4 linked regions of the Homo sapiens genome follow. The protein of the gene in region 3 purifies or fractionates together with the protein of the main gene of each other region. This does not show direct contact. Each region holds a gene or a part of one and is shown on either strand. Other genes may lie near its edges.

The links.
Region 1: the proteins of AZU1 (region 3) and SH3GL1 purify together in Homo sapiens (affinity purification with mass spectrometry; 4 studies listed by BioGRID and IntAct, with this or other methods). This does not show direct contact.
Region 2: the proteins of AZU1 (region 3) and ZYG11B purify together in Homo sapiens (affinity purification with mass spectrometry; 4 studies listed by BioGRID and IntAct, with this or other methods). This does not show direct contact.
Region 4: the proteins of AZU1 (region 3) and ZNG1C purify together in Homo sapiens (affinity purification with mass spectrometry; 3 studies listed by BioGRID and IntAct, with this or other methods). This does not show direct contact.

What each region holds. Positions count from the first base shown.
Region 1 is NC_000019.10:4,390,087-4,397,876, forward strand, and holds part of SH3GL1 (endophilin-A2), read right to left. Parts: intron 128-7,790; exon of another isoform or gene 1-127. UniProt on the Homo sapiens protein: Implicated in endocytosis. May recruit other proteins to membranes with high curvature.
Region 2 is NC_000001.11:52,820,210-52,827,999, reverse strand, and holds the end of ZYG11B (protein zyg-11 homolog B), read right to left. Parts: intron 6,562-7,790; coding exon 6,371-6,561; 3' UTR 664-6,370; downstream 1-663. UniProt on the Homo sapiens protein: Serves as substrate adapter subunit in the E3 ubiquitin ligase complex ZYG11B-CUL2-Elongin BC. Acts to target substrates bearing N-terminal degrons for proteasomal degradation with the first four residues of substrates being the key recognition elements.
Region 3 is NC_000019.10:823,174-831,454, forward strand, and holds the start of AZU1 (azurocidin preproprotein), read left to right. Parts: upstream 1-4,663; 5' UTR 4,664-4,673; coding exon 4,674-4,731; intron 4,732-5,056; coding exon 5,057-5,213; intron 5,214-6,388; coding exon 6,389-6,533; intron 6,534-7,534; coding exon 7,535-7,768; intron 7,769-8,281. UniProt on the Homo sapiens protein: This is a neutrophil granule-derived antibacterial and monocyte- and fibroblast-specific chemotactic glycoprotein. Binds heparin.
Region 4 is NC_000009.12:68,244,832-68,252,621, reverse strand, and holds part of ZNG1C (zinc-regulated GTPase metalloprotein activator 1C), read right to left. Parts: intron 7,410-7,790; coding exon 7,323-7,409; intron 5,010-7,322; coding exon 4,913-5,009; intron 3,817-4,912; coding exon 3,725-3,816; intron 1-3,724.

The sequences.
Region 1 (7,790 bases), 3.6 Mb from region 3:
CCCTCCCAGGCGGTCAGTGGGCCGCTGCTGAGTCAGGTCCAATGGAGGAAACTGTCCGTCTATCTTCCTGCTGTGGTGAGGAGGTCTCCCCGTGACCCTGCTCTCAGGGCCTGGTCAGCAGGTTTTTCTAGGAGTGGAGAGGAAAAGGAAGACAGGGCCGTCCTCCCAGAGCCTGAGTTCAGGGAGCCCTGGGTACTGCTTAACAGGAAATGAGCAGAAACGCACCAAGCTGCAGTGCTCAGGAAAAGTGCTTGCCAAATCCAGCCCTGCAAAAGGCGAGAGATAGAGAAAGAGAGAGACAGGCAGGCAGACAGACAGGAAGAAGGTGTGGAGAGGACAGACAGAGAGAGAGGAAGAAGAGGTGAGAGGGCAAAAGAAGGGAGAGACAGAGAGAAAGACAAGGGAAGAGTGAGAACAGAAAGAGAGGAAGAAGAGGGGGGAGAGATAGGGAGAGGAGGGGAGAGAAGGGAGAGAGGGAAACCCGCTGCAGCCCTGGCCACCACATTCTTTCATCCGCTTTCCAGGGACAGCTTCGAAAAAGAACCAGAAGAGACCGCCCCCTGACACTTCAGCTCACACATTAAAAAGCCATTAGAGTTGGAGAGCTCAGGTCCTGCTGAGATGCCTCCAGAGCCTGTTGAGCTCCTGACACCTACCCCACCCCCACCCCGGGGCAATGCTTCCCCTTCCAACCCTCCCGGCACTTAAAGACCTCAGGGGCTTGGAAAAGAGAAACATGGAGGCCGCTCTGAGCTTCTCCTCTAAGCTCTGCCCCGGGCAGCGCCGAAACCTGCGGCTGCCTCCGAAATCCTACTGGGGACGTTGGCAGCATGCTCCAAATTAAACACGACGTTTCCCCAGATCAGATCAGTTGCAAAACACTGGAAACAATCACGGAGGAGGAAAAGGGCTAAGGCAGCAGTGAAGGCTTGGCTGTACCCTAGGCCCCTGGATTAAAGTCCACTGGACACAGAGACACAGGCAGGTCTGAGCGGGACGGGCCTCAACCTGCAGGTTTCTCCTTTGAGGAAAAAATGCAACAGACACACACACAGACATCTGAGGGGCCCAGCTGCCAGCTCAGACCTCAGGTGCACTGCGCACGTGACAGCGGCCACCCCTGGGTGGCCAGGGGTGGGGTGAGCAGTGTCATGTTCTCTGTGTGCTTGATAGGTCTGGGGTGTCAAAATGTGACAGCCCCCAATTTCTTCAACTGAGCGGCATAAGGTGAGACACCTCATCTCGCACTCACAGGCTGTTATTAGGGGCACCTGGAATATAATTAAGTACTGCAGAGCTGGGCTTTAACACACACCCAGATAAGCAGGGCGATCAGCACCCACGGAGCCCCAACTGGTCTTTGGTGAACACGGGATTCTGAGTCAGAGACAAACTTTTAGCCGAACTTTCAGCCCTTGACTTGTTCTGGGACCTACTGTACAGCAGTCACGGGTGGCAGAAATCGGAGTCTGATGACCCCTTGGTCCTGGTTTGTTAAGAATGGGAAAACGTAGGATGCTGCTTGGTTACAAAGTGCCCAGTGACCACCAACAGCCAACCCTGTGAAGGGGGCCAGGTGAGCCAGGTTTCACAGACAGGCCCGGGGAGCCGTGGGGTGTAAGGAGCCTCTAGCTTCCTTTGGGGAAAGGCAGTCTCAAACTTCTGTGTCTGCACAGCCCAGCTGGCACACAGTTCAGGCCTCCACACAGCTGCTGGTTCCACCCGTCTGCAAGCCAGAAACAGAGTGAGCCCTGCCTGTCCTGGGGTGGCCCAGGGTCCACGCCGCCGGCTCCAATGCCGGCTCCAATGCCTCAAGGCACACACCAGTACATGCCGCACGTTCCTGGATTCAGTCACCAGAGCTTCCTGCAAGAACGGACTTAACTCCATTCCCATCATACGTGGACATCACAAAGCAAAGTCCCTTCCTACATCTGTTGCCAACACCTCCCCGAGGGAGAGGGGGCTTCCGGAGGTCAGCCTGCAGCTGCTGGACTCACCGGCCTTGTCCCGGGCACAGCCTCTGAATCACCAACGCCGGCCCTTACCAGCCCACACAAAAGTGCCTCTCAACTACCTGTCACTCCCAGCACAAGGGTATACACTTTTATCTGTGCCAAGGTGAAGGGGTTATGAACCCCATATTTTTGTATCTTAAGATTATTCCCACTGGCTCACGCCTGTAATCCCAGCACTTTGGGAGGCAAGGCAGGGAGATCACTAGGTCAGGAGTTCAACAACAGCCTGGCCAACATGATGAAACCCTGTGTCCACTAAAAATACAAAAATTGGCCAGCTGTGGTGGCGCACGCCTGTATTCCCAGCTACTCAGGAGGCTGAGGCAGGAGAATTACTTGGACCCAGGAAGCGGAGGTTGCAGTGACCTGAGATCGGCCCGCTGCACTCCAGCCTGGGACAGAGCAAGACTCCGTCACACACACACACACACACACACACACACACACACACACACACACACACACAAAAGATCATTCCATGTTTATGGCTTAACAAGTCAAGCACTTTGGTAGGAAAACCAAGAGTGGCCCCACAAAGTGAGGTTTTAAAAAAGAGGTCAGGGCCGGGCACGTGGCTCAGGCCTGTAATCCCAGCACAATGGGAGGCCAAGGCGGGCGGATCACCTGAGGAGTTCAAAACCAGCCTGGCCAACAAGGCGAAACCCCGTTTCTACTAAAAATACAAAAATTAGCTGGGCATGGTGGCAGGCACCTGTAATCCCAGCTACTCAGGAGGCTGGGGCAGGAGAATCGCTTGAACTGGGCAGCAGAGGTTGCAGTGAGACAAGATCGTGCCACTGCACACCACCTTGGGAGTGGGGACAGAACAAGACTGCATCTCAAATACGTAAAATTTTAAAAAATCATAACAACCCGGGCGTGGTAGCTCACACCTGCAATCCCAGCCCTTTGAGAGGCTGAGGCAGGAGGATCACCACCTGAGGTCAGGAGTTCGAGACCAGCCTGGTCAACACAGCAAAACCTCATCTCTACTAAAGATACAAAAATCAGCTGGGCGTGGTGGCACATGCCTGTAATCCCAGCTACTTGGGAGGCTGAGGCAGGAGAATTGCTTGAACCCAGGAGGCGGAGGTTGCAGTGAGGTGAGATTGCGCCACTGCATTCCAGCCTGGGCAATGGTGTGAGACTCCGTCTCAAAAACAAAAAAAACAAAAATAACAAAACAAACAAACAAAAAAAAACACCATCATAAATAAACTAAAAAAAGGTCAGGGCCAAGCACAGAGGCTCACGCCTGTAATCCCAGCACTTTGAGAGAATGAGGAGACAAGATCACTTGAGTCCAGGAGTTCAAGACCTGGAGTGGTGGGGTTTAAGGAGCCTCCAGCCTAGGCAACATAGTGAGACTCAGTCTCTACAAAAAAATTAAAAAATAAATAAAAATAGGCGAGGCACAGTGGCTCACTCCTGTAATCCCAGCACTTTGGGAGGCCAAGGCAGGTGGATCACGAGGTCAGGAGTTCGAAACCAGCCTGACCAACATGTGAAACCCCGTCTCTACTAAAAATACAAAAATGAGCTGGGCGTGGTGGTATGTGCCTGTAATCCCAGCTACTCAGGAGGCTGAGGCAGAAGAATTGCTTGAACCCGGGAGGCAGAGGTTGCAGTGAGCAGAGATCGCGCCACTGCACTCCAGCCTGGGCGACAGAGCTAGACTCTGTCTCAAACAAACAAAAAATTAATATTAAAATTTAAAAATAAATAAAAATAAAAATAGGTCAGAACAAGCAGTATCGTTGACATTCTGAAACACCAGCCATGTCCCAGACACTGCTTACTCTGACCTACAGCCCCCAAATAGGTGGGGCCCAGGATCCCCCGGCAGACAGTCCTCCCCCAACCCCCCTGGCCTCTCCTTTTCTCCTAGGCACAAACCCAGGGCCTAAGGAGCATCAGGCAGATTTCAAAGCTATGGGAGGTGACGCTTGTGAATGTCCCTCCTAGCTCAGTCTGAAGCAATCTTTCCATTCAAATGTTCAAACCCTCTCCCTCCTTTCAGGCAAAAAAAAAAAAAAAAAAAAGCCAGCATTCCAGGCAGCTGCCAGCTCTACCCCTAGTTACACTCTCAATCTCACACAGCCCGGCCACAAGATTTATCAGGAAGCCAGTTAGCAGCTTAAGCCTGGAAATAATGTCACCCAAACCCCCAGCACACCAAGGGAACTTCTGAGAGCAGCTCTCGCTAGCGGCATTCTTTCACCCTCCTTAGTCCCCCAGTTCTAGCTGCGCACGGATGCCAGGAGGCTCTTGAGGGAGTGGGTGTCACACAGGCAGAAAGGAGGGAACCAGGGAGATGGGACCATGACGGACGGCTTTTTACTGCTTTCTTCCAGATGATTCAACTTTCCCCAGCTCAGGCCCTCAACCAGTCTATGGCCAGTTCATGACAAGAAGTAAAAACTCACAAACTGCCCACTCAAGCCCAAACCAATTTTGAACAAGTTCCCAAAAGGTTTTGCAGGGAGATGAACTAGCCTGGAACCCACTAAGGTTCTTACCATTATCACCAACGAGAGATCAGAAACTCAGAACCAACAACACAGCCTCGCCTGTTAGAAAGTAAGTTTATCTTTTCCAGCACTCTCTCCCGCATCCTCCCGGCCTCTGTTGATCAATTTAGAAAGGACACCGTAAGAACCCTTGGAAGTCTAGAGCCTGGTTTAAAGCAGGGTTTCTTAAGCTCAACTCTACTGACGTAGGGCTGGAGAATTCTTCCTTTGCAGCGGGGGGAAGCTGTCCTATGCATTGTAGGATGCTTGGCAACCATCCCTGGCCCCTATCCCCTCGATGCCATGAGCATTCTCTCCCAAAGTTGCGATAACAACTGTCTCCGACATTGCCAAGCCAAGGAAGGGGTCTGCGCCATCCCCGGCTGACAGCGCTGATGGGCGCGTGCCCCTCCTTCAGGAGCCCCGATGCCTGTGGCTCTCAACTATTAAATCAAGTTCCAGCAAAGAACTGGAAACCTTTAAGCTGTGTATGGAACCATTGTGTGTAGCACTGGAAACTGTCCCTTTTCTAAGTCACTGTAAATGGTGTTTTTTTTTGGAGACAGGGTCTGGCTCTGTCTCCCAGGCTGGAGTGCAGTGCTACAATCAGGGCTCCCTGCAGCCCTGACCTCCTCAGGTGCAAGCGATAAAGGTTCCTCGTGATCAGCTGGAAGGTACTTTTGAATTAAAGGTTCACACTGAAGAACCTAAGTGGATAGTGGCATTTGAGGCCAGCAGTGAAAGTGTTTCCTCTCAAAGAGTTCCCTACACAGCAGCAGACATGGTTATTCTGAGAGTCATGTATGTTCTGTGTTTCTCTGTGAACCATGTTTCAGTCTTTGTTTCTGTCATCATATGTACGGGAAATTCCATAGAGACTACATCACACAAAACTGACATTGTCAATTACCAGGAAATACAGGTGCTCACCTTTTGAAGGCTTATTCATACATATGGTTGCCACAATACGTATATATGATAAACAGTGTATGTATACATACAAGTTGTTTAGGCCAGGCACGGTGGCTCACACCTGTAATCCCAGCACTTTGGGAGGCTGAGGCGGGCAGATCATGAGGTCAGGAGTTCAACACCAGCCTGACCAACATGGTGAAACCCTGTCTCTACTAAAAATACAAAAAAAATTAGCCGGGTGTGGTGGCGCACCTGTAATCCCAGCTACTCAGGAGGCTGAGGCAAGAGAATCGCTTGAACCCGGGAGGCGGAGGTTGGTCTCAGTAAGCCAAGATTGCGCCACTGCACTCCAGCCTGGGTGACAGAGCAAGACTCTGTCTCAAAATATATATATATATATACAGTTGTCACAATATGTATATGATAAACGGTGTACATATACACATAAAATGTTTATGGTGGATCTAGCTCCCCCCTAAAAAAGAAGCCCAGATACTGAAAGACACTCGAATTTTCCTAAAGACTTGAGGGTGGGCTCGACCTTAGGGTCTGGATGCTGAGTTTTATGTAAATATCTACCTGTGGGGCGGGGTGCCATGGCTCATGCCTGTAATCTCAGCACTTTGGGAGACTGAGGCAGGTAGATCACCCGAGGTCAAGAGTTCGAGACCAGCCTGGCCAACATGGTGAAACCCCGTCTCTACTAAAAATACAAAAAAATTAGCGGGGCATGGTGGTGGGTGCCTGTAATCGCAGCTACTCGGGAGGCTGAGGCAGGAGAATTGCTTGAACAGAGGAGGCGGAGGTTGCAGTGAGCCGAGATCGTGCCATTGTACTCCAGCCTGGGCAACAAGAGAGAAGCTCCGTCTCAAAAACAAACAAACAAACAAAAACAAACTACACATGTGGCTATCTGTGTTTAGCAAACTAGGAAAATCTTTGTTTTATTTTATATTTTACTTTTTTTTTTTTTGAGACGAAGTCTCGCTCTCATCCACCAGGCTGGAGTGCTTCCCAAACTGCTGGGATTAAAGGCGTGAGCCACCACACCTGGCCAAACTAGGAAAATCGTAAGAATGGCTCAGTGGGGATTTTTTTGTTCCTTTGTTTTGGTATAATTATCCTCATTTTTTTTCCAAATCTTCAAGCAGGGTTTCTCAAATTTTGGTACTATTGACATTTGGGGCCAGGTAATTCTTGGGGGCAGTGGGGAGATGCTGCCCTGGGCACCGGAGGATGTCCAGCAATATCGTCTACCTACTAGTAGCCAGCAGCACCGCACCAAGCTGTGACAACCAAAAAGGTCCCAGACATTGTCAATGTCCCCTGGAGGACAGAACTGGCCCTGTTTTACAGGAAGATAAATGTCCCCTAATCCTTTTGTGTAAAAGGGGGAATGTTTTTTACCCTTAGACCGGATAAGCAAGACCAGCTGAGACCTACTGGTATAAAGCATACTGCCTGCTCACATGGTGAGAACTCAATAAATGTTTGTATCACTACGTAATGAGAGATCCCGAGAGATGTCACTTTCCAACAGGCACAGCAGAGGGTGAAAGAGTTGTTATTAGACTAAAAACAAAAAAAGAGACACAAATAGTCGGATACGTCCAGATAACAGCTGAGATGTCAGAGGGAACCATGGCAATGATCACAGAAGAGCATGGAACGCAGCCAGGGTGACTTCTAAGAGCACGACTCAGGACAGAATTGACCAGGAGGCCAAGACGACAGCCCCGAGGGTGGGCTGTGGCCATTGTGCTTTGGGACTAGGCCTCGGGATGTGGAAATAGGCAATCCTAAGCCCAGCTAACACCACACTGTCCTTTCCAGGCTTCAAGGCGCCATTCACAGATCTGAACGCAGGTCATCCTGCTTCCCTTGAGAGAGACAAAGTCCTGGTGGCCGGCACAAGAGGCCTGGTTCATTCCTCTAAAGAGGGTGTCAGCTCAGGACAATATGGGCACAGGCCCTGATCGCTGGGAGTGGGGGTGGTGGCTTCCAGAGACCTGTCTATAGCAGGGAACAAAGTGGCCCAGGAATTCCTCCAAGACCTCTGAGGACATCTTTCCTGCTAGGGAGCAGTACTCTATGGTGCTCTAACCAAGCAGGTGAAGGTCTGACGCCTGCTGGGCAAGGTCTAACCCAGGGCCAGGCCATCTGATTTCAAAGTGCTGGGGCAAGGGGGTGGGACTGTTCTCAGTGACAACTCTAAAATTCGTCTGGATTAAATCTTTCTCCAGGGTTTAACCATCATCTGGGGTGTAGAGATAGACCCTAAGTATCTATATCCCTAAACAACCACTAGGGTTGTTACTTTTTTTATTTATTTTTTGAGACAGGGTCT
Region 2 (7,790 bases), on a different chromosome or scaffold from region 3:
CTCTCCGGGAAGTCTTCTTGGACTGTCTAATGGGTGTCCAGTCTGGATTAGGTGTGGTCTCTCTCTACAAGTATTGAGGACTGGTCTTTAATATACTGTTATGCAATATTTATCTGTTTATTTAATATTTACTCTTCTCCAGTAAATTTAAGTTCCCTGAAGTATTTATAAGTTATATAAGTTACAACTCTTAAATAGTACTTAGCATAGGTATTTAAGGAAATGAATGTTCAAGGCCAACGCTGAGTGGGGGGAAAAAAAAAGGAAATGGATGATGTTCCAGTATTAAAAATGTCTGCAGGCTGGGCGTGGTGGCTCACACCTATAATTCCAGCACTTTAGGAGGCTGAAGCGAGGATAGTTTGAGGACAAGAGTTCCAGACCAGCCTGAGCAACATAGGGAGACCCCTGTCTCTACAAAAAATTAAAAAATTAGCCTAGTGTGGTGGCATGCACCACGATCATGCCATTGCACTCCAGCCTGAGTGACAGAGTAAGACCCTGTCTCAAAAAATAAAATAAAAATAAAAACTTCTCCAGTAAAAGTAGCCTTTTTCAGAAAGCAATCATTACAAGTGGATCACTAAGGAATTTGAAGTTTGCATTAATATTAACTTTTAAAGCCAAATGTCTAGAATAAAAGTAGACAAGACACACTTTACATAAAATTTATAACATTTATTTAGGCAAAAAAAATCCCAAAACAAAAATCTGTACACACAACATTAATACTTAAGTGATGTCCTGATTTAAAATACAGCATGATTCATGTACAGAATACTCCCATTCATCTGGCCATAGTGAGAACAGTGCCTTCAGTCCAGATAATTGAGAGTCTTTGAAATATACACACTTTCCAATGAATTTTTTATATCCTTAGAAAGGAGTTAAACTGTTCTATCAGAATTCAAACAAAAGATAACTTCTCTCACACTCATAAGTCAGTGAGAATTTGACAGTGGGAATTCTACAAAAGTCAGGGATTTCTTAATTTTTGTTGTTGCAGATTATCTGAGAGTATAAAGTTTTTAAGGAAAAACAATGCTCTTAAGATCCTGCTTTTAATAAAGTGTCTCAGCTTTCATTAGCTAAGTAGCTTCTTCCTTCTAGGCTGCTTAAAATAAGCTTAAAAGGACCCAATTTGAACAGTTTTTCCCAAAATAAGTCCAAAATTAAACACATAACATTAATAAAATAGATTGATGATTTCCCACAAAATAATTTTGATAAACTTGGATTTTGGAAATATTCTTAATGGCCATTCTGTCTAGCTGTAAAGTTAGGCTGTGCTATCCAAAAGAGCTTTACTTTAGAGTCATGAGAAGCAGCACTGATCTTTGCAAAACTTACCCCAAAAAATGGGGAGAGAGAAAAACAGGAAGAAAAGTCTCTTTCTTAGGCTACCAGTCAGTTAACAAAGTATCTTAGATTAAGATTTGGAAACCAAAGAATGCATAATTAGGAGTGTACCATATCATGCAAAGTCTATGAAATACTAAATAAGGTAAAACAGTTAATCATTTAAAGCACGATGAGCAAATTCTCTTATCATACGGCTATTCTCATCACCGGACGAAGGTTGGTTTTGCATTATTCCTAAAATAAAACAGTTCGTGAGTGAATACTGCAAATTAAAAACTGTCAAAACACAGCAAATGATAAGGACTAAACATCCATTATCCACAAACTCATTTGAAACTACTACCATGGATTTGAGAGGGAAACCAAAAGTTTGCAAACCTCTCTGGGAGCTGTGTCAAAGTTAGTATTCTGAAGCCCTAGCAATACAAAGTCCCCAAATAAGTAAAATACAGATAAAAGTGGAAGAGCCTACATCAGCTCAAAGTAACATACTTCCTTTAACTTATGCCTTCAGTTTAATAATACTGTTTATACCACTACATTGTATAATAACGAAATAATGTAAACATACCATTAGAGGGCAGGAGAGGGATGGGTTTCACCATATACAAAGAGTTTAAGTTTGTTTTCCCTGCTACCTCTTTTTAACCTTGGGTGCAGCTGTACATTGTTCTATAGGGGTATTGTTCTATAGTTTAAAAACACTAAGCTAAATCTCTGGTAAATTAACCTAATTTAGCACATAAAATATGTTTTCATTAAACATATGGGATAGGAAGGGATAGGAAGATGGCCCGGTGTTATGTTGATGCATGGCATAATTAAAAACACAGCTAAGACCAGGCACTGTGGCTCATGCCTGTGATTCCAGCACTTTGGGAAGCTGAGGTGGGAAAGTCACTTGAGGCCAGGAGTTCGAGACCAGCCTGGGCAACACAGTGAGACACCATCTCTCTCTCTCGCTTTTTTTTTTTTTTTTTTTTTAACATAGCCAAATAAGATGACTGGGGAGAAAACAGATTAACACAAAAGGTCCCACCTGTAAGGGCAACTTCCTAAAGCTAGATATATAGAACCGATGGTTTTAAACATAAAACTTGATTATGTAGAAGTTTGCAAATGAAATATATCACGAAAGCAAATTCCCATGCAGCTTTATTCACCTCAACCATGTGTAATCTACTTAAGGTGACTAGTGCCACTATAAGGCATTACTGTCCCAGGGTGACAAGAAGCAATATTTATACTCAATTCCTGAAACTGGGGGTCTGATATGCTTTTTAAAAATCCTAAACTAACTAATATCAGTAGCCATGGAGTCATCGGCTTGAGGGTAAACTAATCCCTTATACCACTTGATTTATTTTATTAATTAGTTAATAATGCAGTTAATTTTCAACTGCAAAAAGAAAAAATTATTTTGTGGAGTAGAAAGACCACAGCAATAATTACTTGATGCAAAAAATAAGACACCTTAATTGTATTTGCTCAAATCTGTTGTCTTAATGATACCAATATGTATCATTATAATCTATTTTTTAAAAATTTTCCTCATTATGCCCTAGAACATCATTATACTCTAAAAAGTCAAATTCCATTTCCTTTAGATTTCCTTAATGTTGCTTGTGGACTGATGTAGTGATATTTTACATTGGAGCCCACCAATGATTTGAACAATGAGTGGTTCAACCCTAGTCTAAATTGTGCTTGAAACAGCACCTCTAGCCACTGAGAGATAACACTCAAAGGCACCAATAACAGTTATATTCTAGTCTACAGGTGCAAAAAGGAGGCCTTGTAGATTCTAACTATAGATACTGGCTACTTATGCCTCATAATTCCAATACATACATCCACTGTATTTTAGCCAGATTCAGGACCTTACACACAATTCTGTGCCTTAATTCTATACGCAATTTTAGGAACCATCCCAACTGCAAAGGCACTCAAATTTTTATATATTTGGGATGTAATAAATTATTATGCTTTTTTTTTTTTTGAGACGGAGTCTTACTCTGTCACCCAGGCTGGAGTGCAGTGGCATGATATTGGCTCACCACAACCTCCACCTCCCAGGTTCAAGCGATTCTCCTGCCTCAGCCTCCTGAGTAGCTGGGATTACAGGTGCCCGCCACCACACCCAGCTAATTTTTGTATATTTAGTAGAGACAGGGTTTCACCATTTGGGCCAGGCTGGTCTTGAACTCCTGACCTTGTGATCCACCCACCTCGGCCTCCCAAAGTGCTGGGATTACAGGCGTGAGCCACCGCGCCCGGCCTATTATGCTTTTAAGACTCAGAAGTATCTGGCCACTACTGATGTTTACAAAGTAGGAAATTTAGCCTGTAGTTCCAGCTACTCCAGAGGCTGAGGGGGTAAGATCACATAAGCCCAAGAGGCTGCAGTGAGGTATGATTGTGCCACTGCACTCCAGCTTGGGCGACAGAGTGAAACTCTGTCTCTACAAAAAGAAAAAAAGTAGGAAGTTTAATTTTTTTTTTCCCCAGAGTCTCACTCCGTTGTCCAGGCTGGAGTGCAGTGGCACGATCTTAGCTCACTGCAACCTCCACTTCCTGGGTTCAAGTGATTCTCGTGCCTCAGCCTCCCGAGTAGCTGGGACTATAGGCGTGCAAAAAAGCCACCATGCCCAGCTAGTTTTTGTATTTTTAGTAGAGACGGGGTTTCACCACGTTGGCCAGGGTGGTCTCGAACTCCTGATCTCAAGTGATCTGCCCGCCTCGGCCTCCCAGAATGCTGGGATTACAGGCAAGAGCCACTACGCCCACCCTTGCTTTTACATATTTTGGATGCTTCAACTATTAAGAAGTTATTCTGAGTAAAGAAGGGATTTACTGTTTTCTGTACACTTTTAGCCATTTCTGAAAATAATTTGTAAAGACAAAAACCTAGCATTAGCCTGTAAAGAAATATGCACTTTTGTCTTATAAAACAGAAACTTGAAGCCAAACTTCTTAAATAGGCTTTCCCTTAACTACACTAGATAAAAGACCTGGAAACGGTCAACATATCTAGCAATTTCCAAACTACCACAGGCCATCTCGTTTTCTGAACTTTGTCTTAGACATTAACATTCGAAAAAGGAAAAAAAAAAAAAAAACTTTTAAAAGAATTCTCTATTTTGTCTGAAATAAACTTAGTCTGTGAAAATTTATCTTACGCCTATAAAAATTCCTTAAGCCAATTAAGTCAGCATTAACCCAGCATTTAATATGGTTTTCAGTGATTCTAAATATCTATTTAGATATTTATTTGAGTCAGCGTCTCGCTCTGTTTCCCAGGTGCCACCACACCCAGCTAATTTAAAAAAAAAAAATTTTTTTTTTTGGTAGAGACCGAGTCTCACTATGTTGCCCAGGCTAGTCTTGAACTTCTGGGCTCAAGCAATCCTCCTGCTTCAGCTTCCCAAAGTGCTGGGATTACAAGCATGAGCCACTGCATCCAGACCTAAATGCCTACTTTCTTTTAACTCAGTTTTCATTCACATGAAGGAACTCCAAAAAAAATTCAAGTCTGATTATTGTGATAATGGTATAAAATGTTTGTCAAAAAATGTCATCAGTGAACTAACAAACCAGCTCCTTTCTAAATTAAAATGCTTCTGAATAATCACTATAATTTTAATATTCCATTTTAAATCTCTGTTGAAAACACTGGCCATCTATGAAAAAAAATGTAGTTATCTGGGATTGTAGATTGACCTTATTCACAAAATAAAATTTTAAATGAAAATTAAGTTTCTTGGTGACTTGCTATCTCTCAAGTGCTATTACTGATATAAGTGATTCTTTACTATACTGTATCAGATACCTTAAGGAAAGGTAATTGCCTAAAAAATAATCTGTCAAAAATATGTGCTGTTATGCACTGCGAGTAGAATCATTACATTTAATCATTTAAAGAGTTTAATTATTTTCTTTCATTTTTGGCAGTGAGATGGGGACACTTTCTCTAACATGAACACATTAAGAAGATACACATATTTTGAACAAGAGATTTTAACTTTTTATGGCAAAATTTACTGGTGTCAATTGTATTTTAATTGAGAGGTTAACACCATGTTGCTGTCTCTATTCCACTGAACAAAAATGACTTTGAAATAGAGGAAAAGAATAGCCAGTTTTAACTGGCGATAATTTTTTAAAATCACATTTTCACAACACTACAACATATGGAGATGTAGACAGTTAGTCTTTAACACAGAGTGCTGTAGTATTTTATACTGTGGTGCTTGGGGAAATATTCCTAGTGAATAACCGGCAGTCTGTGCAGGAACCAGCAGTCCACACTTCTAGGTATAAATATGGAGGACAAGCTTCTGCTCACCGCCTCAAGAGAGGTGGACTCCCGAAGGGTAGCCTGTCTCATTTTAAAACCTATACCATGAAACCAATTCCCAGTTCCTACACTCTGTTCTACCTTCATAATTTTTCTTTCTCATATATCTTTCCGCCAGCCATCCAGGCTCCTGCCAGTGATTAGCTTCCACAAGATGATCCACATTTCCCTTCTTTCACACTAAGAAGGACATCTTATAAAATATACACAGATAGAGAAGAAAGGCATTTTATACAGAAGCAGTATAAAATTTACAACTGAAGCAGTGTCAGAAATCAGGTCAACAGCTTATGTGAAGCTGCAAATTGATTGGAAGGGACTCTGAGATCAGAAAAGTCTGGCCTAAGGGTTCGTGCAAACTTTACCATAAAACTGTAGAATCTCAAGCACAAGTAAGTTCAAACACTGAAAGATGTGGAAAATTTCCTAAAAGGCAATGATAAAGGAAGAGACCCTTCTTGACTCATAAGTTTAAAATCACAAGACAAATTAGAGACTGTTCACATGGGCAGTACTACACATTATCAATCCCAAACTGATTTTATGACTCTTGTCATAGAAACCCCCAAAACATCAGGGAGGGTAAGATATTCCAAATGGACCAATCACAAAAAGGATTCCTGTGATTCAACTATCCAATACTTATGGCTATCAATTTAGTCTGGCTTGGGGCTGTTTTTTACAGGGAGGTGGCCTCCCATGGCGCACAATGTGTTTTTCTAAGCTATCCAGAATGGCCACAGCAATCTGTTGGACATGGGGATCAGTATGTTCATGATCTTTGATGTTGTATAAATGCTGCAATCCTCCTTCTTCAATCAGCATGCTGCAATACCTTGAAGCTGAAAAAGAAAAAAAAACACACACAAAACAGGAGAAATAGCTTTTCTTAAAACACTTGAAAATTATTCCACAAAAAAATGACTTCTAGGAGCCATTTTTTTTTAGCTGTTTTGTTATTGATCACTAACATGCTACAGCTTGATAAATAACCTCTATACTGATGTTACGTCTACAGTGCAAGGCCTACACATTCAATCAATAAATAGCTAGCTTGATTTTTCTAACCTCAAGACATGTACAACCTGTATTAAAAAAATAAAAACAATCATAACTACCTTATCTTTGACCCAAAATCACAGGTAAGTGTTGTTATATTTTTATGCATTTCCTATGCTTTTTTTTTTTTTTTAGACAGAGTCTTGCCCTGTTGCCCAGGCCAGAGTACAGTGGCGCAATCTCGACTCACTGCAGCCTCCGCCTCCTGGGTTCAAGCGATTCTTGTGCCTCAGCCTGGAAATACAGGCACATGCCACCACCCCTGGCTAATTTTTTTATTTTTAGTAGAGATGGGGTTTTACCATGTTGCCTAGGCTGGTCTCAAACTCCTGCCCTCAAGCAATCCTCCCGCCTCAGCCTCCCAAAGTACTAGAATTACAGGCATGAGCCATAATGCCAGGCTGCATTTACTATGCTTTTTAAAAACTTAATGGCACTCATACTGCACATACAATTTTTAAATTTTTGAAATATTTTATTAGCCTTTTTTTTTTTTTTTTTTTTTTTAAAGACAGTCTCATTCTGTTGCCCAGGCTGGGGTGATCATGGCTCATGCCCAGTGGTGTGATCATGGCTCACTGCAGCTTGCTGTGTTGCCCAGGCTGGAGTCCAATGGCACAATTTTGGCTCACTGCAACCTCTGCCTCCCGGGTTCAAGCAATTCTCCTTCCTCAGTCTCCTGGGTAGCTGGGACTATAGGCACCAGCCACCACACCTGGCTAAATTTTTGTATTTTTGGTAGAGGTGGGGTTTTACCACGCTGGCCAGTCCAGTCTCAAACTCCTGACCTTAAGTGATCTGCCTGCCTCAGCCTCCCAAAGTGCTGGGGTTACAGGTGTGAGCCACCACACCCAGCCACATTAAAACATTTTAATACAAATAGAAGTGAATTCCATTTAAATATAAACAAAATAAGCCCACAAGGTAGGAACCTAAACTATCTGAGTTGGAGACAAAATATTCTAATATTCCCCAAATTACAGTGCATTTTAGAATAAATTATTCAGGGGCT
Region 3 (8,281 bases):
GCTCAGGCCTATAATCCCAGCACTTTGGGAGGCAGAGGCGGGAGGATCCCTTGAGGCCAGGAGTTCCAGACCAGCCTGGCCAACATGGTGAAACCCCATCTCTACTAAAAATATAAAAATTAGCCGGACATGGTGGCAGGCGCCTGTAATCCCAGCCAGATGGGAGGCTGAGGCAGGAGAATTGCTTGAACCTGGGAGGCGGAGGTTGCAGTGAGCCGAGATGGCACCATTGCCCTCCAGCCTGGGCGACAGAAGGAGACTCTATCTCAAAAAAAAAAAAAAAAACAAACAAACAGTGACTCCAGAGGGTTGGAGCCCTGCTAGATACCTTAGTTTGCTCATAACAGGCACTGCTGCCCCCGGGAAGAGGGTCGCCTGCCATAAATGCGGAAACAGTTAAATGGCGATGGGAATAGGATGGGAACTCAATGGTGTTGCTACCTTTGGATGGACTCGGAGGCAGCCCAGCTTCCTGGGACAGGACTGCACGGACTGCCTGGGGAGGGGTCTTTGGCCCCCCGGTTCCTGCAGGGGGGCTCGGGGAGGCCCTGTGAGCAGTTGGTCACAGGTGGGTCCCATTCGATGCGATCCTGTTCCTCCCCAACAGCCCTGGAGAAGGGGGACGTTGCCTGCTGTGGCTGCGGCTGTTTTCCTGGCCTGTGAGAGGCGGGGCCAGAGTGGCCGTTGGGAATCTGGGTGTTGCAAGGTGACCACAAACAGCTCTCTGGGGGAGGAGGAGGAAAATGCAATTGATTTTCAGGAGCCTTCTGAGGTCAGGAGTGGGAGAGTGTGCAGGGGGACCCTCCTGGCAGCTTGGGGGTCCAACAGAAGATCTGGGGGAGTCTCAGGGTCTTCTCCCCCTAGGATCACCAGTGGTGGAGATGGGGCAGGCCTGGCCATGGAGGGCACGTTGCTTGGCTGAGGGGCCTGGGCTTGAGTGTGGGGCCTGGGCTTGAGTGATGGGAGAGTTCCGAGCAGGCCGGAGGGGTTGAGCGTACCAGACGCTGCTCAAAACTTTTATTTAAAAATGATTATTATTATTATTACTATTATTTTGAGATGGACTCTTGCTCTGTCGCCCAGGCTGGAGTGCAATCGTGCGATTTCAGCTCACTGCAACCTCCCACCTCCTGGGTTCAAGTGATTCTCCCTCCTCAGCCTCCCGAGTAGTTGGGATTATAGGCGCCTGCCACCACGACGGGCTAATTTTTGTATTTTTAGTAGAAAGAGGATCTCCCCATGTTGGTCAGGCTGGTGTTGATCTCCTGACCTCAGCTGATCTGCTGCCTCAGCCTCCCAAAGTACTGGGATGACAGGGGAGCCACGGAGCCCAGCCTTTTTTTTTTTTTTTGGGAGACGGAGTTGCACTCTGTCGTCTAGGCTGGAGTGCAGTGGCGCGATCTCGGCTCACTGCAAGCTCCACCTCCCGGGTTCACGCCATTCTCCTGCCTCAGCCTCCCGAGTAGCTGGGACCGCAGGCGCCCAGGACTATGCCCGGGTAATTCTTTTGTATTTTTAGTAGAGACGGTGTTTCACCGTGTTAGCCAGGATGGTCTTGATCTCCTGACCTCGTGATCCGCCCGTCTTGGCCTCCCAAAGTGCTGGGATTACAGGCGTGAGCCACCGCGCCCAGCTTTTTTTTTTTTTTTTTAATAGAGAGAGGGTCTCACCATGTTGCCAAGGCTGGTCTCAAACTCCTGGGCTCAAGTGATCCTCCCACCTCGGCCTCCCAAGGCACTGGGATTACAGGCGTGAGCCACCACGCCCGGCCTCAAAAACTTTTCAGAATATGAACCCCACTCCATGCTCAGCACTGTTCTGTCTAGAAGGCAGAGTCTATCCCTGTCTCAGGGCACACTGACGTGCAGACAGCGAGCTCGCCCTGAGGTCATGCGACTGGGAGGGACAGAGCTTCCGGCTCCCGGCAGAGGGGAAATGGGGCCTGGCCCACGGGAGAGCTGAGGCCCACGTTTGGCCAGGACAGGGTGGATGGAGGCTGGGGCCTCCGCAGGGAAGATGGACAGGTAGGATCCGGGGTGGGCAGAGAGGGAGAGCTGGCTTGGACGGAGGCAGGGATCTGGGGGCTGTGCCATGGACCCTGTGAGGTGGCTGGGCTGTGAAACTCAGTGGAGACCGGAATTATTATTATTATTATTATTTTTTTGAGATGGAGTCTCACTGTCTCCCGGGCTGGAGTGCAGTGGCACGATCTCGGCTCACTGCAAGCTCCGCCTCCTGGGTTCACGCCATTCTCCTGCCTCAGCCTCCTGAGTAGCTGGGACTACAGGCGCCCACCACCACGCCCGGCTAATTTTTTGTATCTTTAGTAGAGATGGGGTTTCACCGTGTTAGCCAGGAAGGTCTTGATCTCCTGACCTCATGATCCGCCCGCCTCGGCCTCCCAAAGTGCTGAGATTACAGGTGTGAGCCACCGCTCCCGGCCTGGAGACCAGATTTGAGCCCTGGGACCCTACATTCCCGATGGGCAGCGGACCTCAAGGCACACCGGCCCCGCCTCCCTGGACTCTCCCCGTATCCGCCCCTTGGAGGGGCAAACTGCCCTCAGAGGGCTCCCACAGGCCCAGACACAAACTGGTGTCCCCAAGGGTGTGGGGGACACGGTAAGCTCCAGACCTCAGTTTCACCTTGGAAATGAGCCCCTTTGTAAAAAATGGAGGTGAGTTTGGACGCAGTAGCTCACACCTGTGCTCCCAGCACTTTGGGAGGCCGAGGCAGGTGGATTGCTTGAGCTTAGGAGTTTCAAACCAGCCCGAGCAACATAGTGAGACTCCACCTCTACAAAAAAATACAAAAATTAGCCGGGCATGGTGGCATGTGCCTATGGTCCCAGCTACCTGGGAGGCTGAGGCAGGAGGATTGCTGGAACCCGGGAATCGGAGGCTGCAGCGAGCTGAGATCGTGCCACTGCACTCCACCCTGGGCAACATAGTGAGATCCCATCTCTACAAAATATACAAAAATTAGCCGGGCACGGTGGCGGGTGCCTGTGGTCCCAGCTACTCGGGAGGCTGAGGCAGGAGGATCAGTTGAACCCAGGAGATTGAGGCTGCAGTGAGCTGAGATGGTGCCGCTGCCCTCCAGCCTGGGCAACAGCGAGACCTCAACTCTGAAAAAAACAAAAGAAGGAGATGAAATTTACATAACTTAAAATTAGCCATTTTGAACGGTACAGTGAAGTGGTTTTCGGTGCATTCACCGACTTGTGCAACCATCACTGCTGTCCAGTCCCAGAACATTCCATCACCCCAAAGAAGGAAGCCCCATCTCCATCCATCAGCCATCACCCCCTGCCCTCCCCCGGCCCCTGGCAACCACAGATCCACTTCCTGCCTCTGCAGATTTGCTTGTTCTGGACATTTCGTCTATTTATTTTTATATAGTTTTTAATTTGTTTTTATTTATTTTTTTTGAGACGGAGTCTCTCTGTGTCACCCAGGCTGGAGTGCAGTGGCGCAATCTCGGCTCACTGCAACCTCCACCTCCCAGGTTCAAGCGATTATCCTGTCTCAGCTTCCCAAGTAGCTGGGACTATAGGCGCCCGCCACCACGCCCAGCTAATTTCTTTTTTTTTTTTGAAATGGAGTTTTGCTCTTGTCGCCCAGGCTGGAGTGCAATGGTGCGATCTCGGCTCGCTGCAACCTCCGCCTCCCAGGTTCAAGTGATTCTCCTGCCTCAGCCTCCTGAGTAGCTGGGATTACAGGCATGTGCCACCACGCCCAGTTAATTTTGTATTTTTAGTAGAGATGGGGTTTCTCCATGTTGGTCAGGCTGGTCTTGAACGCCCAACCTCAGGTGATCTGCCTGCCTCGGCCTCCCAGAGTGCTAGGATTACAGGTGTGAGCCACCGCACCCAGCTTGTCAATTATATCTCAATAAAGCTGTTGAAAAAGTTTAAAAAAATCACCCAATCGGGCACAGTGTTTCACACCTGTAATCCCAGCATTTTGGGAGGCCGAGGTGGGTGGATCACCTGAGGTCGGGAGTTTGAGACCAGCCTGGCCAATATAGTGAAACCCCATCTCTACTAAAAATACAAAAAATTAGCCAGGCGTGGTGGTGGACAACTGTAATCCTAGCTACTCAGGAGGCTGAGACAGGAGAATCACTTGAGCCTGGGAGGCGGAGGTTGCAGTGAGTCGAGATCACACCATTGCACTCCAGCCTGGGCAACAAGAGCGAAACTCCGTCTCAAAATAATAATAATAATAATAATAATAATAATCACCCATACAGACGCGCAGGACTCAACGCAGGACTGCCAGCTCCACTGCCCTGAGCCCCCCGGTGCCAGGCCCAGCGGGCAGTGCTGGAGCCCCAGTGGCTTGGGATGGGGAGACTGGGACTCTGAGCTGGCAATGTTCCTGGGTGCTGGCTGCATGCCCGCCATGTGCTGGGCTCCGGGATCCACTGGTTCCTGACACCCTCACCTGCCCCTGGGGGTGTGGCCATCTTCTAGAGAGGGAAACTGAGGATCAGTGCAGAATGTAGGGGGAGCCCAGGCTGGCCCAGGGAGCAGTTGGCGGTGGAGGCCTTGGGCAATTTCCCGTGTTCCCACTGAGTGGGGCTGTCCCTGGGCCTGGGCGGGGACGCCACCAACTGCCAAGGCCTGTGTATAAGGGCAGCCGCCGCCTTAGCCACAGACCTGCCCCGCCATGACCCGGCTGACAGTCCTGGCCCTGCTGGCTGGTCTGCTGGCGTCCTCGAGGGCCGGTGAGTGCCTCTCTGTGCCGGTGGTCCCCCATCTGTGCTAGGGCCCGGCTGCCAGGGCAGAACTCAGACTTAAAGCACAGAGAAGGCAAGCGGCTTGGCCTGGGTCACACAGCCAGCCCGGCCTGGACGATCCCGCGAAAGGCGTGAGGGCGGACGGTGTGCGGGACTCAGGGGCCCCCTGTCCTCTTAGGGAGTGGGACGATGGGGGAGGGTGGGTCCCCCCGCAGCCCCACTGGGTGGATAGAGCTGAGGCTGCAGCTTCACACGCCCTCCCGGCCACTGTGTGGATTCTTGGGGATCTCAGAGCTGTCTCCCCCCGACCCAGGCTCCAGCCCCCTTTTGGACATCGTTGGCGGCCGGAAGGCGAGGCCCCGCCAGTTCCCGTTCCTGGCCTCCATTCAGAATCAAGGCAGGCACTTCTGCGGGGGTGCCCTGATCCATGCCCGCTTCGTGATGACCGCGGCCAGCTGCTTCCAAAGCCAGTGAGGGGTCCTGGGGAGGGGGCCTAGGGGGCATTGGGGCTCAGAGAAGGGGCTTGGGGGGCTTAGGCATTCAGTGGGGGTGCTTGGTAGGTGAGGAGGGGAGGGGATTGCAAAAGGAGGGGCTCAGGGAAAGGAGGGGGCTTGGAGAGGGAAATGGGGACTGAGTTGAGGAGGGACCCAAGGATATTGGGGGGCTCAGATGGAGGAGGCCCAGAGAAGGGAAGGGGGTCAGATGGAGGAGGCCCAGAGAAAGGAAGAGGCTCAGATGGAGGAGGTGCAGTGAAGGAAAGGGGGTCAGATGGGGGAGGCCCAGAGAAGGGAAGGGGCTCAGATGGAGGAGGGGGCCCAGAGAAAGGAAGGGGCTCAGATGGAGGAGGTGCAGAGAAGGGAAGGGGGTCAGATGGGGGAGGCCCAGAGAAGGGAAGGGGCTCAGATGGAGGAGGTGCAGAGAAGGGAAGGGGCTCAGATGGAGGAGGTGCAGAGAAGAGAAGGGCCTCAGATGGAGGAGGTGCAGAGAAGGGAAGGGCCTCAGATGGAGGAGGTGCGGAGAAGGGAAGGGGGTCAGATGGAGGAGGTGCAGAGAAGGGAAGGGGGTCAGATGGGGGAGGCCCAGGGAAGGGAAGGGGCTCAGATGGAGGAGGGGCAGAGAAGGGAAGGGGGTCAGATGGGGGAGGCCCAGGGAAGGGAAGGGGCTCAGATGGGGGAGGCGCAGAGAAGGGAAGGGGGTCAGATGGAGGAGGTGCAGAGAAGGGAAGGGGGTCAGATGGGGGAGGCCCAGATAAGGGAATGGGGTCAGATGGGGGAGGTGCAGAGAAGGGAAGGGGGTCAGATGGGGGAGGCCCAGATAAGGGAAGGGGCTCAGATGGAGGAGGTGCAGAGAAGGGGAGGGGGTCAGATGGAGGAGGCTCAGAGAAGGGAAGGGACTCAGATGGAGGAGGGGGCGCAGAGAAGAGAAGGGGCTCAGATGGAGGAGGAGGCGCAGAGAAGGGAAGGGGCTCAAGATGGGAAGGGGGCCCTGGAAAGTCTCGGCTCTGCTTCTGTAAAAGCGGGGGAGTTTTCAGGGTGAAGGATTGCAGTCTGCAGGCTGGGATCCCCCCTAATTTGCAAGCCGGCTTGCTCTGTGCCCAGGCCCCAGCCTGGTGTCCTCCCTCTGCCCTTTCCTCCGCTACTCTCAGGAACCCCGGGGTTAGCACCGTGGTGCTGGGTGCCTATGACCTGAGGCGGCGGGAGAGGCAGTCCCGCCAGACGTTTTCCATCAGCAGCATGAGCGAGAATGGCTACGACCCCCAGCAGAACCTGAACGACCTGATGCTGCTTCAGGTGAGAGGATGGTGCCACCTGTGATCCCAGCACCTCGGGAGGCCGACGTTAGCCAGGGAAACAAGTCCAAACTTGGTCTCTACAAAAAAATACAAAAATTAGCCGGGAGTGGTGGCGCGCACCTGTGGCCCCTGTGCTTCAGGAGGCCGAGGCGGAAGGACGGCTTGAGGTCAGGAGTTCGAGACCAGCCTGGGCAACATGGCCAAACTCAGTCTCTACAAAAATATATATGTGTGTGTGTGTGTGTGTGTGTGTGTGTGTGTGTGTGTATCTTGCCGGGTGAGGTGGCTCATGCCTGTAATCCCAGCATTTTGGGAGGCCGAGGTGGGCGGATCACGAGGTCAGGAGATTGAGACCAGCCTGGCCAACATGGTGAAACCCCATCTCTACTAAAAATACAAAAATTAGCCAGGCATGGCAGCGGGCGCCTCTAGTCCCAGCTACTCAGGAGGCTGAGGCAGGAGAATCGCTTGAACCCGGGAGGCGGAGCTTGCAGTGAGCCGAGATCGCGCCCCTGCACTCCAGCCTGGGTAACAGAGCCAGACCCTATCTCAAAAAAAACTTCCAAAAACAATACAGCAACACATACAGATGTACCACGGTTCGCGTATGGAGCCTCCTGTTGGTGGAGACTGACGTCGTTTTCAAATGCTTTTGCTATGACAGAATCATGTGAATGTTTTTCATGTTTGGTTTTTTTCTTTGAGAAAATGATAAAATTATCTCAAAAATATCATTAAAAAATTTAAAAAAGTAGAGACGGGGGTTTCACCTTGTTGGCCAGTTTGGTCTCGAACTCCTGGCCTCAAGTGATCCACCCACCTTGGCCTCGCAACGTGCTGGGAATACAGGCGTGAGCCACCGCACCCGGCCCCTGCCGGGAATTAAACGCAAACCACTTACAGACTACAGTTAATGTCGCTGACACTTCTGCTCCCAGGGGTCCCCATGAGGCTCCAGTCCCCAGGGCCACCCTCCCCTGACTCCATTTCCTTCCCCAGCTGGACCGTGAGGCCAACCTCACCAGCAGCGTGACGATACTGCCACTGCCTCTGCAGAACGCCACGGTGGAAGCCGGCACCAGATGCCAGGTGGCCGGCTGGGGGAGCCAGCGCAGTGGGGGGCGTCTCTCCCGTTTTCCCAGGTTTGTCAACGTGACTGTGACCCCCGAGGACCAGTGTCGCCCCAACAACGTGTGCACCGGTGTGCTCACCCGCCGCGGTGGCATCTGCAATGTGAGTGCTCCCTGTGGCGGGAGGAGGGGTCCTGAGAGGTACTGAGCTCTCCGTGGCAGGAGAAAGCAAGTGCAGGCTGAGGGCGGCACAGCAGGGGGGCCCCAGGATTGAGCATTTTCACGGTAGGAGAAACAGTATCTTTTTTTTTTTTTTTGAGACAGAGTCTCGCTCTGTCGCCCAGGCTGGAGTGTAGTGGCGTGATCTCGGCGGCTCACTGCAACCTCCGCCTCCTGGGTTCAAGCGATTCTCCTGCCTCAGCCTCCTAAGTAGCTGGGATTACAGGCATGCGCCACCACGCCCGGCTAATTTTGTATTTTTAGTAGAGACAGGGTTTCTCCATGTGGGTCAGGCTGGTCTCGAACTCCTGACCTCATGATCGACCCACCTTGGCCTCCCAAAGTGTTAGGATAACAGGCATGAGCCACCGTGCCTGGCTGAGAAACAGTAGCTATCAAACGCCGGCTGTGAGCCACGTCTGTGCTGGGGGTTGGGGACCCAGCAGGCATGGTAGAG
Region 4 (7,790 bases), on a different chromosome or scaffold from region 3:
CCTCCCGGGTTCAAGCCATTCTCCTGCCTCAGCCTCCCAAGTAACTGGGATTACAGGCTCCCACCACCAAGCCAGGCTAATTTTTGGTATTTTTAGTCGAGATGGGGTTTCACTATGTTGGCCAGGCTGGTCTTAAACTCCTGAACTCGTGATCTGCCCATCTCGGCCTCCCAAAGTGCTGAGATTACAGGCATGAGCCACCGAGCCCGGCCAGCAACAGATTTTTAATGGAGATGAAATGGCCTCCTTTTGGAAGAAGATGCCATTTAGGACTTTCATAGCTATAGAGAAGTCAATGCCTGGCTTCAAAGATTCAAAGGACAGGCTGACTCTCTTGTTAGAGGCTAAAGCAGCTGGTGACTTCAAGTTGAAGCCAATAATCATTTACCATCCTGAAAATTCTAGGGCCATTAAGAATTATGCTAAATCTCCTCTGCCTGTTTTCTATAAATAATAAAGCCTAGATGACAGCACATCTGTTTACAGCATGGTTTATTTTAAGCCCACCATTGAGATCTACTGCTTAGAAAAAAAAAGATTCCTTCAAAATATTATTGCTCATTGACAACACACCTGATCACCCAAGAGCTGTGATGGAGATGTACAAGGAGATTAATGTTGTTTTCATGCCTGCTAACACAACATCCATTCTGCAGCCCACTGATCAAGGAGTAACTTTGACTTTTAAGTCTTATTTAAGAAATATATTTCATAAGGCTATAGCTACCATAGATAGTGATTCCTCTGATGGATCTAGGCAAAGTAAATTGAAAACCTTCTGGAAAGGATTCATCATTCTAGATGCCATTAAGAACATTCGTGATTCATGGGAGATCAAAGTATCAACATGAATAGGAGTTTGAAAGATGATTCCAGCCCTCACAGATGACTTTGAGGGATTTCAGACTTCAACGGAGGAAATAACTGCAGATATGGTGGAAACAGTAAGAGAACTAGAATTAGAAGGGGAGTCTGAAGATGTGACTCAATTCCTGCAATCTCATAAGAAAACTTTAACTAATGAGAAGTTGTTTCTTATGGACGGGAAAAGAACGTGGTTTCTTGAGATGGAATCTACTCCTGGTGAAGATGCTATGAACACTGTCAAAATGACAACAAAGGATTTAAAATATGACAGAAGCTTAATTGATAAAGCAGGGTTTGAGAGGACTGACTCCAATTTTGAAAGAAGTCATACTGTGGGTAAAATGCTATCAAATAGCATCATGTGCTATAGAGACATCTTTTATGAAAGGGAGAGTCAACTAATGCAGCAAACTTCATTATTATCTTATGAAATTGCGATAGCCACCCCAACCTTCAGTAACTACTACCCTGATTGGTCAGCACCCATCAACATTGTGGCAAGACCCTCTACCAGCAAAAAGATTATGACTTGCTGAAAGCTGAGATGATCGTTAGCATTTTTTAGCAATAAATATTTTTAATTAAGGTATGTATGTTTTTTAGACAATTCTATTACACATTTTATAGACTACAGTATAGTATAAACACAGCTTTTTTTTTTTTTTTTTTTTTTTAAGAAATGGGGTCTCATGCTGTCATCCAGGCTGGAGTGCGGTGGTGCAATCATGACTCACTGCAGCCTCAAACTCCTGAGCTCAAGTGATCCAAGTAGCTGGGACTACAGGCCTGTCACATCACACCCGGCCAAAACGCATAACTTTTATATGCAATGGGAAACAAAAAAATGTGTGTGACTCACTCTATTGTGATATTCAGTTTACTGCAGTGATATGGAACTAAGCCCACAATATCCCTGCGGTATGGCTGTACAGTATAAGAATCACCTGAAGGGCTTATTAAAAACAGCTTGCTTGACCCCCTCCCTTAGAGATTCCGATTCAGTAGATCTGGGTTGGTCAAGAATTTGCATTTCTAACAAGCTCCCAGCTGAGGCTGAGGCTGCCATTCAACATACTACCAAGTAGCACTGGCATAGAGAGATCCCTGGAATAAAATTTACCTACTTGTGTGTGTGTGTATGAATGTGTGTGTGTGTGTGTGCGTGTGCATGTGCGTGTGTGTGTATACAGTCTTGCTCTGTTGCCTGGGCTGGAGTGCAGTGGCGTGATCTCGGCTCACCATAACCTCCGCCTCCCAGCTTTCAAGCGATTCTCATGCCTTAGCCTCCTGAGTAGCTGGGATTATGGGGTGCGCCACAACGCCTGGCTAGTTTTTGAATTTTCAGTAGAGACTGGATTTCACCATGTTGGCTAGGCTGGTCTTGAACTCCTGGCCTCAAGGGATCCACCTGCCTCAGCCTCCCAAAGTGCTGGGATTACAGACATGAGCCACCATGCCCAGCCCTTACTTGTATATCACAATAGTGAGATGATTACTTTTCAACTTTCTTCTTTGTATTTTTTAGGTATTTAAATTTTTTTACAATGAATGTTCCATCTTTACCCAAACAATAAAATCTTTATTGTAAAGAAAGTTAGAAGCAAGAAACATTAACATTTTTTATAACTACAATTTGTATAAAAGCTTTCTCTGTGATCTTTAGTTTTTCTTTCTTCCTCTGAAAAGCTGAATAGTGTTTAATTAAACTCTCAAAAGTATCAAGTTTTTGTCTATAAAATGGCAAAACTGGCTATGATGAAATAAACTGATATTTGCTATTTCTAATAAAAGCATACAATATATTCTTTCTTACCAGATTCAAATAATATTTAACGCCAACATATTAGTCCAAGTCCTATCATCAGTCAGATTTATCAGAAAGGTATGAAAACCCATGCCTACTATAAGGACCAAAATAGCCTAATTCAATACTACTTTGAAAACATGGGGATGATGTTACTACGTAATTGTTTTAAGTACAATAACCACTGATCACATTTGAACTCTCAGGATACTTCAATATTTCTTTTGGACAACTATGACCTGTTTAGTAAATTACCCCCAAATACTTTAATATAGTTTTACAAATCGCCCCAATGCCAGAGACCCAGATCAAAAAGAAAATAATGGTATGGGTCAGATTCACAGAATAAGCACTAACTTTTATGCAAACTGAAAATAAAGATTTTATCTAAAAGTTATTTGGGGAAAATAAGCAGACTTTATCAAGAATTAGAGCTTGGTAAGAAGGTAACAGAAACCCATTGTGAGAAACAGGTTGACTCTGTGTAGCTTTCCATAGTAGAGTTTAGAGTTTCTTGTCATGATTACCTTATCAATGCAGTATAATAACTACTTACACAGCACTTACATTGTATTAGGTATTATAAGTAATCTACAGATGATTTAAAGTATATGGGAGGATGTGCATAGGTTATAGGCAAATACTACACCATTTTATGTAAGGGACTTGAACATTAATAGATTTTGGTATCCTCAGAGGTTCTGGAACTAATACGCCATGGATGCCAAGGGACAACTGTACTTAGAAGTAGAACGTCTCTGCTCTTCCTACATGTCCTTATTTTTAACAACTTCTGTTCTTACAAATAATCCTAAATCAATCAATAAAACTTCCAATTCTATTAACAGCTTAAAAGCACCAAGAAATACTCTGATCATTCATTCAACTGCCAAAGAAAATGACAAACGAGTACTTTTCCTCTTTTAAACCAAAAAAAGTTTTTGGTTTAATACTAACAAAAGCTTTAATACTCATTTTAGATATTCCTCTAATACATCTATTTACAATATATCACAGAACTATATTCTGGTTATTAATAATCTCACTTCTTACCAGGGTCTGCTAATCCAGTGGTCTCTAACAGTATGTCATCAAATTTCCCCTTCTTTTGCATCAAATTCTCAATAGCTCTAAGGCCATTGTCCCTGGAGAATACCAAAACATAATTTACAGTTAATTACCTAAATATTTTGAAGTGATTATTATAAACACTTTAAAATGTATTCAACAACCCGAGACAAAAGTATCCTTAGGAATGTGAAAATTTAACTCACTTCTAACCTTCTAACAAAATGTCTGTCCCATATTTACCAGTGAGAAAACAATAGATGCATATATATAATAGGTAAAAAGAAATCATATACATAATAATACTTTATTAAAATTAAAAGCAGAGGAAACTTTATCTGACCAAGTATCTTTTTATAGCTTTATGAAATTTTTAAAAACCAACATACAAAATAATGATAAAATTTATTAACTATAGTAGTTTAATATAATAGCTAAAGGGACACTGATATTAAACACCATATAATTCTATTTTACATTAGGATGCAAGGTTTTAAATTCCTTTTTTCTTATTTTATCAAAAGTGAAGGAAAATCCTTAATAGATTACATTTTGGTTGTTCAAGAAAGTCTGTTATAATTTTATCCTTGCCAAAACATTTGACACAAAGTCAAATACCTAAGGGAGTAAATGATGCCGAAGAGATTTAATTCACTAGAATACACAAAATTAACAATACAAGTAGTCATTTTTATAATTCATTCAACAAATATTTGAGTGCTACTATGTGTTGGGTAACTCTTCTAGGGTCTATGGTAGACTAGTGATCACTGTCCTTGGAAACTTAACTACTAGAACATAATGTAAGGTTTTTCTTTTTTGATAGTCATTTATTTTTTATAAGGTTGAACACTTAGAAGTATGACCAATGACAGATTAAATTCAGAATAATCATTTTTTACATATGAGACTTTCATGCACTAGAGATTAAATAAGCCCTGACATCAAAAGCAATAAAAACTCAATAAAAGGACCAAAACATTAGAGCAGATAGAAAAGACAGCAAGAAACACTTTAAGAAAATGCTTCCTAATAAGTTTATTTTCTATTTGTTTGAAAATACAATGAAGCAAACTGTGTAAATTCAGTTAAATTACTCAAGAAAATTAAAGCTGGAAATATAATCAATAAACATTTCTAGTAAACCATGTACACAGTAAACACATTCCTCACTTCACTGAACAGCAGAGGCAACCGTTTCTAAGTTCCAGCCACTCTTCATAGAGCTCTCCACCTTGGCTGACAGCTAAGGATTTCTCCAGCGCACTTCCTAGAATAAATAACAAACAGCACTCTTTAGCTTATGTCCATTAGCCAACAAAAAACAAAGATGAGGATAACTCAATAATGGAGATCTTAAAGCAGAAACTGCATTTTATAACTTATATTCTTTCACTTTATTCATGCAGCCTTGATACCTAAATTACAGTACACTACATTATTTTAGCTTTTATTTAAGATGTCTTAAGCCCTGAAAAAGACACATCCTAAACTGATAAACATACCTACTTCCTCCTTAGGCCTCTTACTTGGCCACCCCCATTTCTTAATGAAGGCATTTTTTTCTTGTCCAGGGTAAACTTTCTAAATCGACTAGTATGTTTTATATACTGGATTCTGTATGCCCTTCAACCTCTTAAGAGACTGCCTTATCTTTTTCTTTTCATTCTTCTTCTAAATTGTTTCTGTTAGACAAACTGCTGAATATTCCCAATGAGTAAAAACCCTAGTTCATCCTGAGGAAGGTTTTTGGCCAGTGTACCATGTGCTCATTTAAAAATTAAACTTATAGGGAGGCCAAGGCGGGCGGATAACGAGGTCAGGAGATCGAGACCACCCTCGCTAACACAATGAAACCTCATCTCTACTAAAATTACAAAAAATTAGCCAGGTGTGGTAGCGGGCGCCTGTAGTCCCAGCTACTCAGGCGGCTGAGGCAGGAGAATGGCGTGAACCCGGGAGGCGGAGGTTGCAGTGACCCGAGACTGTGCCACTGCACTCCAGCCTGGGCAACACAGCGAGACTCCATCTCAAAAAAAAAAAACCTAAACTTTTAGTCAAATTCACATATTTTCCTAGCAATACTTACTTAAGAAAGAATAAACTATATTTGAAATGCTTGTTATCTATAAGAATTATTTTAAATGTTTTACTTTTCCTCTAATAAAGAAATATACCAAACGGTGAAGTTCTAAAAGTCCACTAAGCAAATGAGCTCCCATAAAATCGAGTAGTTTTACACTTACATATTTTTTATATTTCAGCTAGGTATTAATAAAGAGCTTCTAAAGAGGTTGCTACAGAATTCGGACTATATACAGAACATTAATGAAACATGAAGAAAAGTATTGAGAATGCTGTGAAAAATAAAATTGTGAAAATGATCCAGGAAAAAATAAAGAAAATAGTAAGAATAAATGTAATCAGTGTGCAATAGGTTATTTAATAAGATGATGAAAAAAACAGTCTGTTATTAGAAATCTCAGGATTTTTGCCTAAAAAGCACTTTTCTCTTTAGTTTATTAAAATCAGAAATCGAATATAACTGGAATATAACTGGCTTCCCATCCTGTTCATAAAACCTAGCTCTTTTACTTTTTACAACTGAAAAAAATAGTACATTTTAAAAGAAATCGTCTAATAGATATTGTTTTTTGGCTAGAAGTGAGCTTTGATTACAATTCATACTTATGAAGAAAAACTCCTATAAAGATAACAGAAGTATTGTGTCTAGAGCTATTTTTTTTTACTACAGTTTAATATTTGAGTTGAGAAGTTAAGCACACTTATTTTCACAGATAAAATACATGAGGATAAAGACCATATGTTTACTTTCTTTTTAAAATATTGAGTTTTAACTGCATTGCAGATAATAAACATTAAACAAAGTTAACTAATAACAGAAGCATTTTCAAATATTTTTCATGAGTTGCAATAGAGTCCATACAAAACTGCCTTTCTAATTCCTAAAAAAGACATTTTTTGGCCAGGCATGGTGCCTCACGCCTGTAATCCCAGCAACTTTGGGAGGCCGAGGCGGGTGGATCATAAGGCCAGGAGCTCAAGACCATCCTGGCCAACATGGTGAAACCCTGTCTCTACTAAAAATACAAAAATTATCTGGGCATGGTGGCGCATGCCTGTAGTCCCAGCTACTCGGGAGGCTGAGGCAGGAGAATCACTTTAACCCGGGAGACAGAGGTGGCAGTGAGCTGAGATTGCACCACTGCACTCCAGCCTGGCAAGAGAGAGACTCCATCTCAAAAAAAATAAAATAAAATAAAAAATAAACGTTTTTTCATATGTCTAGATTTTTACTTCTGGAGTCATTTATTTCATGTAAAAATGTAGTTTAATTCTGTTAATAAGAATTCCAAAGTTATACAAAATAAAATTTTATTAAAACTAATTTCAGTATCTCAACCCATATAAATCTTAACAGAAATTAATCTAATTTTTCTAAAGCTATCCACATCAATACAATACCTTGCATTTTCATTTTTAAATATGGAATATCAATTCACCAGAGGAATAAACAGTCACACAAAATCTTGCAACATGACATTTATTGAACTTTACTTACCTTCCCCAGATTCATTTAAAATGACCGCTACTCTTTTACTATGTTGCTCTGTCAAAATATAGTTCAGAAGTGTTGTCTTCCCAGCACCTATAAAACATATTTTTTGTAAATAAAAAAATTCAAAATAATTTTAAAGATACAAAAAACATATAAAGAATCCTAACGTTTTTGAGAATTTGCATGCTATTTTTCATATATTATTTTAGTATAGAATATCCTAGAGGATAAGATTAAAGCATCCTTTGAAACCTGTTGCAAAATACTTTATGTAGACATAAAATTTTATAAATATTTACAAACACTCCTACAAGTTGAAACAGTTTCTTCAACCTAGCCTAACCTTCCCTAAAATTGACACACAATCTTTTATTTATAGTGACCTTTTATTTCAACATTAACGAGACGCAACTTCAGGCTGACTATATGGCTACTTATAGTATGCTTTAAACAATCTATAAAAGTTTTTAT